Regions from separate parts of the Homo sapiens genome. Here region 2 is linked to region 1. Evidence: fine-mapped expression QTL. A gene starts in region 1. The other region holds a variant in brackets. All regions are shown on one strand. Distances are between the middles of the regions. Region 1 holds the start of DAP3 (death associated protein 3). Region 2 overlaps DAP3 (death associated protein 3).

Region 1 (4,000 bases):
AGTGAGCCAGGACTGCACTACTGCCTTCCAGCCTTGGCGACATAGATCCTATCTCAAAGCAAACAAACAAAAAAAAGTGTAAATTTACAGAAGAGTTGCAAAGGTAGTACAAAGTGCTTTCTTACAATTTTCATTAGAGTTTCCTTAATGTTACATACATATGACCATGGTACAATTTTCAAAATTAAGAAATTAAAGCTGGTACAATACTATTTAAAAATTGCAGACTTTATTTGCATTTCCTCAGCTTTTCTGCTAATGTCTTCTTTCTTTTTTTGAGACAGGGTCTCGCTCTGTCACCTAGGCTGCAGTGTGATGGCGTGATCTCGGCTAACTTTGCAACCTCTTCCTCAATCCTCCTGCTTCAGCCTCCCAAGTAGCTCAGACTACAAGCGTGTGCCACACCTGTCTAATTTTTGTGTCTTTTTGTAGAGATGGGGTTTCACCGTGTTGCCTAAGCTGGTCTCGAACTCCTAGGCTCAAGCAATGCGCCCTCCTCCGCCTCCCAAAGTGCTGAGATTACAGGTGTGAGCCACTGCGCCCAGCCTAATGTCTTCTTTCTGTTACAGGATCCAGTAGAAGATTCCACATCTGGAGATCTTTTCCTTTCTTTATATCTATCACCGACATTACCTACTCTTTAAAAATTTTGTAAAAGGCATAAATTTGAAAAATATATCCTCATTAATCTAAATCAAGTCATTGATACAACTATTTAACAAGACGCCCGGCCTGCTTTGTTTTATTAACGACTTGGAGGGACAGAACACTACCCATTACACCCACAAACGTTATCGACATCAACAGAACTGTAAATGACAACACGGCAATACTCTGCACCTTCCCTATGCCTAGGAGCTAATTCCACTTTACATATATTATTATTTCGTGTGTGTGTGTGTGTGTGTGACGGAGTCTCGCTTTGTCGCCAGGCTGGAGTGCAGTGGCGCGATCTCGGCTCACTGCAACTTCCGCCGCCCGGGTTCAAGCAATTCTCCTGCCTCAGCCTCCCGAGTAGCTGGGGCTACAGGCGCCCGCCACCACGGCCGGCTAATATTTGTATTTTTAGTAGAGACGGGGTTTCACCATGTTGGCCAGGATTGTCTCGATCTCTTCACCTTGTCATCCACCTGCCTCGGCCTCCCAAAGTGCTGGGATTACAGGCGTGAGCCACCGCGCCCAGCCCTATCTTATTATTTCACACACCAACCCTGGAGGCATGTTTGGAGTTGCCTAATTTTTATGTACACTTTTTGATAAGGAACTAACAAAAATAACTTGCTGAAGACAAGGGAAACTGAGTCCAGAACTGAATGAGAAGCACATGGTTTCTTCATCCTCCATCACCAGGCTGTCTAACGAGGCTGAAGTACCATCCATGAGTAAGTGCGTCAAGGGCAAACAAACATCATCGCATATGGACAGTGGTGTGAAATTCGAGAAATCCGAGGAGGGTTAACAACAACAAAAAGCACACCACCACGCCGAACTTCCTCGGGTCCCAGGTTGGCAACTCAACGCCCGGGAGGAATCCCCCCCGGAGGCGCGCCGGTCTACCGGCCTCACTCCCTACCTCCTGGAGGTCCGGAGTCCCGCTCCTTTCCCTCAGCGGTACAATACCCGTGTCGGTCCATTCCCTCACCGTGAGTCGAGGACTAGTTCTCCAGACTAGGCGACCGACACACGCTGCCTGGGGCCGGCTCCAAAGCGCCCGTCCTGAGACTGCAAAAAAGGGTCGGGTCATCCGGCAGGAAACGACTCAACGCGCAGCCGCCGCGGCCTCCAACCACCGGCCGGCAGAGGGGCGCTAGGCCGCCCTCGATCCCCTCGCCGCGGTCCCATGGAGGAGGAGGCGAGCCGCAGCGCCGCGGCGACGAACCCAGGGAGGTAGGTTGTCATGGGACTCGGCCGGCCACCCTGGCAATTCCAGTCAAACGGCAAGCCAGACTCGCTTTGCCGGTCCCTTCCTCTCCTGCCCCTGCAGCCGCCAGGAATGGAACAGTCCCGCGGTGGGGACTGTGGGAGGCGCACGCGCGAGGAGTGTAGGGTGGGGGTGCTGGCGGCGGCTGCTTTGGCGGCGGTTGGTGGCCGTGCGGGCGGGGAGGGAGGGGGAGGAGAGAAGAGGAGGTGGAGAAGGCTTGGGCTCGCGCCGCTGAAGGTACGCGTGAGGGCCTGCGCTGGAGCCGGCTTGACAGGGTCTGAGGGGGAGTGGAGAACTGGGCGAGGAGGTTCCCGTGGGTGAGCGCGTACGGGATGGCTGGCTCGCAGGACGGCCGAAGGTGGTGGTTGGTGGGAGCAGCCAGCGACGAGCCCGTAGACACTCGTACGCGTGCGGGCTGACGTGCGCGCTACATGGCCGGAGTCGGGCGAAGCGGGGGACCGTGGGGAAGAACGCGAGGAGGGAGGAGTGGGAGGTTGGGGGTGTCGCTAGGCGCCCTTAGCTCCCTCCCTCTGGAGGAGCTGCCGCGGCCACTCTGCTGCCGCCGCTGCCGCCGCCATTTTGGGTTCGCTTTGCGAGGGGAAACGATCCCAGTGTCGGTTGCGGGATCCGCCTCCTCTCAGTTTGCCCCTTTAGCCCTCCACCTTTCCCTTCTCCTCTCTCGCATTTCCGCCAGTCGGCTTACCCGCTGGCCGCCTCCTGACAAGCGGGAGGGATCCGCGGTGGACCCAGGGAAGCGGAGGAGCCTGGCGGCCACCCCCTCTTCCTCACTTCCCTGTACTCTCATCGCTCTCGGCCTCCGACACGGTGAGTAGAACGATTTGGGCCGGCATTCGGGCCTAAGCACTCTCTCAGCGATTGAATCCTGGGCTTTCTGGGAGCCACTGTCATCTCCCGGACCTGGACCTCTGGGAGAGCAGTGGTGAAGATGGGGGAGGGGAGAGCAGGGAGGGGGATCCTGAGCCTACCGGGAAGTCCCTCCAGGCGGGGTGAAGGGGTGTCCCTGACAGGCAGACTCCCGGAGGGGGCTGGGAAGTAAGCGAGTGGAGGCGGAGTCGGCTGTGCCCCTGACAGGTTAGTTTGTGTTTGTAGGCATGATCGGAGCCTCCCCCATAGTCCAGTTTGTGTGTGTTTAATTAAGGGATAAGAGTGGTCGAGGACACGATCTTGAGAGGGGATTTTACCTGTGTGACAAGGTCTGTGGTGTCCCTGCCGCGTTGAACGGTATGTGGGAACGACAGGATGATCTCAGTGTTGTACGTTTAATAAATGTCACTGGTTAGTTTGTACATGGAAAGAGATGTTTTTGGTCTAGCAGACAGATGGTCTGTTGGTGTGTAGCGGCTGTGTTGGTGTGTGTATGTGAGGATGGCAAGTGTTTCCGTAAGAGTTTGCCTTTATTTGTGTAAGTGTAATGGAGTTCCCCTTATAAGTTAGCTTATTTCTTGAATAAATGTTGGGAGGTTCCTTGCAGGTTGATATGTGTGTGTATTTTAGGGATTGGGAGCCCCTAGTTACTTGTTGGGAAAGAGCGGCAATGGTAGTGTTCTGTACAGCATGTGTCTGTGAGGTCAGGGAGGGGAGAAACTTGGCATAGCCAGTTGTGGTCTTAAGAATAGTTTGTGCCTTTGGTTAGAGTGAGTTGTGTAAATGTGAAGGGCCAAAATATCTTTAACAGAATCATTGCTACAAAGCTGTAAAGAATGGGTGGCCTTATTTGTTGTCGCGGGTTTATAGTAATAGTTTACAATACAATAAGAAAGCTCTTTCAGTTTCTTTGTGATACTGAATCTCTGTGAAAATGGTAGGATGCTTTCTTCCATTTTACAAAATAGGAAATTTAGGCATAAGGAGAGAACTTCTCCAAGGCCGCATGTTAAATTGGTGACAAAGTTGGAACTGTAACTCCCATATTTTCACTACTACTGCAGCAGTATATTCAGCATACCATGGTGCCTCAGGAAGTCTTTGTCGGCAAATCTGAGTATGCTGGAAAGATAGGAGCACATAAGACTGGTTGGCTTGTATTTGGGGGAGACCGATTGTGTCAGATATGTATGT
Region 2 (4,000 bases), 45 kb before region 1:
CTCAGCCTCACGAGTAGCTGGCATTACATGCCTGCACCACCATGCCCAGCTAATTTTTTGTATTTTTAGTAGAGACAGGATTTCATCATGTTGGCCAGGCTGGTCTTGAACTCCTGACCTCAGGTGATCCGCCCGCCCTGGCCTCCCAAAGTGCAGGGATTATAGGCGTGAGCCACTGCGCCCGGCCCAAGGAACTTATTTTTTTCTTTCTTTTTCACTGTCTCCCAGGCTGGAGTGCATTGGCACATCTTAGCTCACTGCAACCTCTGCCTCCCAGGGTCAAGCGATTCTCCCACCTCAGCCTTCGGAGTATCTGGGACTATAGGCGCCCCACCACGCCCGGCTAATTTTTTTTTCTTTTTTTTTTTTTTTCATTTTTTGGTAGAGACGGGGTTTCACCATGTTGGCCAGGCCGGTCTAGATCTCCTGACCTCGTGATCTGCCCGCCTCGGCCTCCCAAAGTGCTGGGATTATAGGCATGAGCCACCACGCCCAGCCTGAGAGCTATCAAATCTGAAACTACTTTTCATATATTCTAGTATTGAGCTAATAAGTAAATATACTATGGCTACTGGCAGCAGATTTCTCATTATTTTAGATTAGAGTTACAGATATGGAAAGGGTATAATGACTGCTGTGATGGTAGCATGGAATTGGCTACTAGTAGGAACTCATAGTTTTTTAATATGATTAGAGAAACAAACGCAGATGTGTGTGGATGTGTATAAACATGTATATGCATATGGTTCACACATATACATACATACATGTATGTATGTACATCTATTTATGAACTTTGCTGTGAGGGCCTAGGAGAAAGGACACCTCAGTAGCAGTGAGTATACCTAGGACTCAGGCCTTGGTTGCTAAATACCAGTCTCCTCTAAAATAAGCCAATGCTCTTTGGAGAAATGGAGATTCCAGGGCTGGGCATGGGAAGTATAAGAGGGGTCTGGAACATATTCTCATGACAGAAAATAAAGAAGTGGTCAAAGAATGATAGGAGCTGGATATGGTGGCTCACGCCAGTAATCCCAGCACTTTAGGAGGCCGAGGTGGGAGGATTGCCTGAGGCTAGCAGTTCAAGACCACCCTAGGCAACAACATAGTTAAGACCATGCCTCTAAAAAAAAAAAGGAAAGAAAAGAAAAAGACAACATTCAGTGCTGGGTGTGGTGGCATGTGCTCAAGGCTACAGTGAGCTATGATGGTGCTACTGCACTACAGCCTGGGTGACAGAGTGAGACCCTATCTCCAAAAAAATAATGATGGGGACATTTTAAAAGGATATAGAAGTTAGCTTGAAGGAGCTTTTTTTCCTGTTGAGATAGGGCCGCACTCTATTGCCCAGGCTGGAGTACACTGGCAAAATCAGGGCCCACTACAGCCTTGACCTCCCGGGCTCAAGCGATCCTCCCACCTCAGTCTCCAGAGTAGCTGTGACTACAGGTGAATGCCACCATGCCCAGCTAGTTTTAAAATTTTTTTTTGTAGAGATGGGGTCTCACTTTGTTGCCCAGGCTGGTCTCAAACTCCTGAGCTCAAGGGATCCTTCTGCCTTGGCCTCCCAAAGTGCTGTGATTACAGCTGTGAGCTACCAAGCCTGGCCATGAAGGAATTGTTTTTTTGTTTTTTGTTTTTCTTGAGACGGAGTCTTGCTTTGTGGCTCAGGCTGGAGTGTAATGGCACAATCTTGGTTCACTGCAACCTCCGCCTCCTGGGTTCAACCGATTCTTCTGCCTCAGCCTCCAGAGTAACTGGGACTATAGGCACGCACCACCACACCTGGCTAATTTTTACATTTTTAGTAGAGACAGGATTTCACCATATTGGCCAGGCTGGTCTTGAACTCCTGACCTCGTGATCCACCCGCCTTGGCCTCCCAAAGTGCTGGGATTACAGACGTGAGCCATCACACCCGGCCAATGAAGGAATTTTTAATGGCCAAATCTAAGATGATTTGAGCACCAAAATAAAAAGTGACAGTAATGATTTAGATTCTATTAAATAAAAATCCACAAGACCATACCAGCTGCGGAGGCTCCATGCCAGGTATAACTAAAGTAATGGATACTAAAACCAGTAGGTGGAAGTTTGAGAAGTAACAGGATCT[T/C]TACCTAGTCTCAAAGTATATCTCTACAACATACATATTAATTCCAAAGCAAAATAATAACTTTACTGAAGAGAAACCAGATGGACAACACCTCAGCTAACAGTTCCAAAATCATTACCAGTAATGGGAGAAATGTGCCTCCTGATAGGATGCACTCACTCAGACATGTCATCACTTCTAACATCACTTCTATTCAGGAGGAAACCTCAGACAACCCCAAAAAGTGACCTACAAAATAGCTGGCATGCACATGCCAAAAACATAAAGATTTCAAATGACAAAGACTGACAGACTGTCACAGATTAAAGGAGACCAAAGAGACATGACAACTTTTTCTTTTTTTTGAGACGGAGTCTCGCTCTGTCACCCACGCTGTAGTGCAGTGGCGCAATCTCGGCTCACTGCAACCTCCACCTCCCGGGTTCAAGCGATTCTCCTACCTCGGCCTCCTGAGTAGCTGGGATTACAGCCACGCGCCACGACGCCTGGCTAATTTTTTGTATTTTTAGTAGAGACGGGGTTTCACCATGTTAGCCAGGATGGTCTCGATCTCCTGACCTCATGATCCGCCTGCCTCGGCCTCCCAAAGTGCTGGGATTACAGGCATGAGCCACCGCACCCAGCCAGAGACATGACAACTTAATGTAACACATTATCTGGGATTTATTTTTCTATAAAAGATACTGGGATAACTGGCTACATCAGAATAAATCCCACCAATTAGGTAAAAGTATGATATCAATGTCAATTTTCTGACTTTGATAATTATGCTCAGGGTATATTAGAGTATCTTTGTTCTTAGGAATGAGACATTATTTGGAGACAAAGAAGCATCAAGGCCAGGCGCCGTGGCTCACGCCTATAATCCTAGCACTTTGGGAGGCTGAGGTAGGCGGATCACTTGAGGTCAGGAGCTTGAAACCAGCCTGGCCAACATGGTGAAACCTCGTCTCTACTAAAAATACAAAAAATTAGCTGGGCGTGGTAGTGGACGCCTGTAATCCCAGCTACTTAGGAGGCCGAGACAGGAGAATCACTTGAACCCGGAAGGCGGAGGTTGCAGTGAGCCGAAATTGCGCCATTGCACTCAAGCCTGGTTGACAGAGCAAGACTCCGTCTCAAAAAAAAAAAAAAGAAAAGAAACTCTGGAGAAAGACGGAGACGGATAAAGCAATGATGATCAAGTTAATATTTTAGGAATCCAGGGGAAGGGCATACAGGAATATGATTTTTCTCTAAGTCTGAAATTATGTCAAAATACATAGATTAATAAAAATATTTTTCTTTAAACAGGATAACAATCTAAGTAGAAACAAATTTTCCTTTGACTTGACCTTTCCCAGCAACTCCTGGGGCAGATAGGCTTTCCGGGGCTTAAAGAGAGACCCAGTCTGGCTCAAAGCCGACACAATGGCGCCTCCATGCTGAAAGAAAAGAGAAAAGGCTGAACTGGAAAAAGTTAAAAAGGATGGAAAACTGCATTAATCATCTGTAGATTTTTTTTTTCTTTCTTGGGCATACAGTGTTACAAAAGTGTGGTCTAGCACAGTTAAATGGCAACTAAATTGGTTATTCCAGATTTGGCTCTGACAATAAACTGCTACCTGATTTTAAATTTACCATGACATATTTGTGGGTCTCAAACTCTTTTCCAAAGACGGTAAGGAGATACAAAAACACTTTAAATGTCTGCAAGCAAAATAAAATTAGGCCAATATTTAAATAAAATGGTTTTGAATAAACTTACTTTGGAAAGATTATAAACCACATATATATAGATTTTAATTCAGACTTTATTTCTAACTTGGTACAGATACAGGAATTAAATAAGACATAATAACTTACTGTCCATAAAATTAGAGACTGTAAAGTATTAGCAATGAAATA

The links. PIP is the estimated chance that this variant, and not a neighbour inherited with it, causes the effect. A credible set is the group of variants that fine-mapping cannot tell apart.
Region 2: its variant is the best candidate, but not a certain one, in a credible set for the expression of DAP3 in whole blood (TOPMed, PIP 0.59).

Annotation. Positions count from the first base shown.
Region 1 is chr1:155,686,817-155,690,816 of GRCh38, reverse strand. DAP3 (death associated protein 3) reads right to left here and starts at 1,726. Exons shown (of 13, transcript NM_004632.4): 1 at 1,643-1,726. YY1AP1 (YY1 associated protein 1) reads left to right here and starts at 2,043. Exons shown (of 11, transcript NM_139119.3): 1 at 2,043-2,158; 2 at 2,616-2,746. It also overlaps the pseudogene LOC124904430. RefSeq lists enhancers at 1,578-1,627, 2,003-2,637 and a silencer at 2,118-2,167.
Region 2 is chr1:155,731,481-155,735,480 of GRCh38, reverse strand. It overlaps DAP3 (death associated protein 3), which reads right to left. Exons shown (of 13, transcript NM_004632.4): 11 at 3,448-3,537. Among named protein-coding and RNA genes, the nearest start is that of DAP3, 44 kb to the right of the region's middle. The variant T/C (reference allele first, on the strand shown) is at 2,114.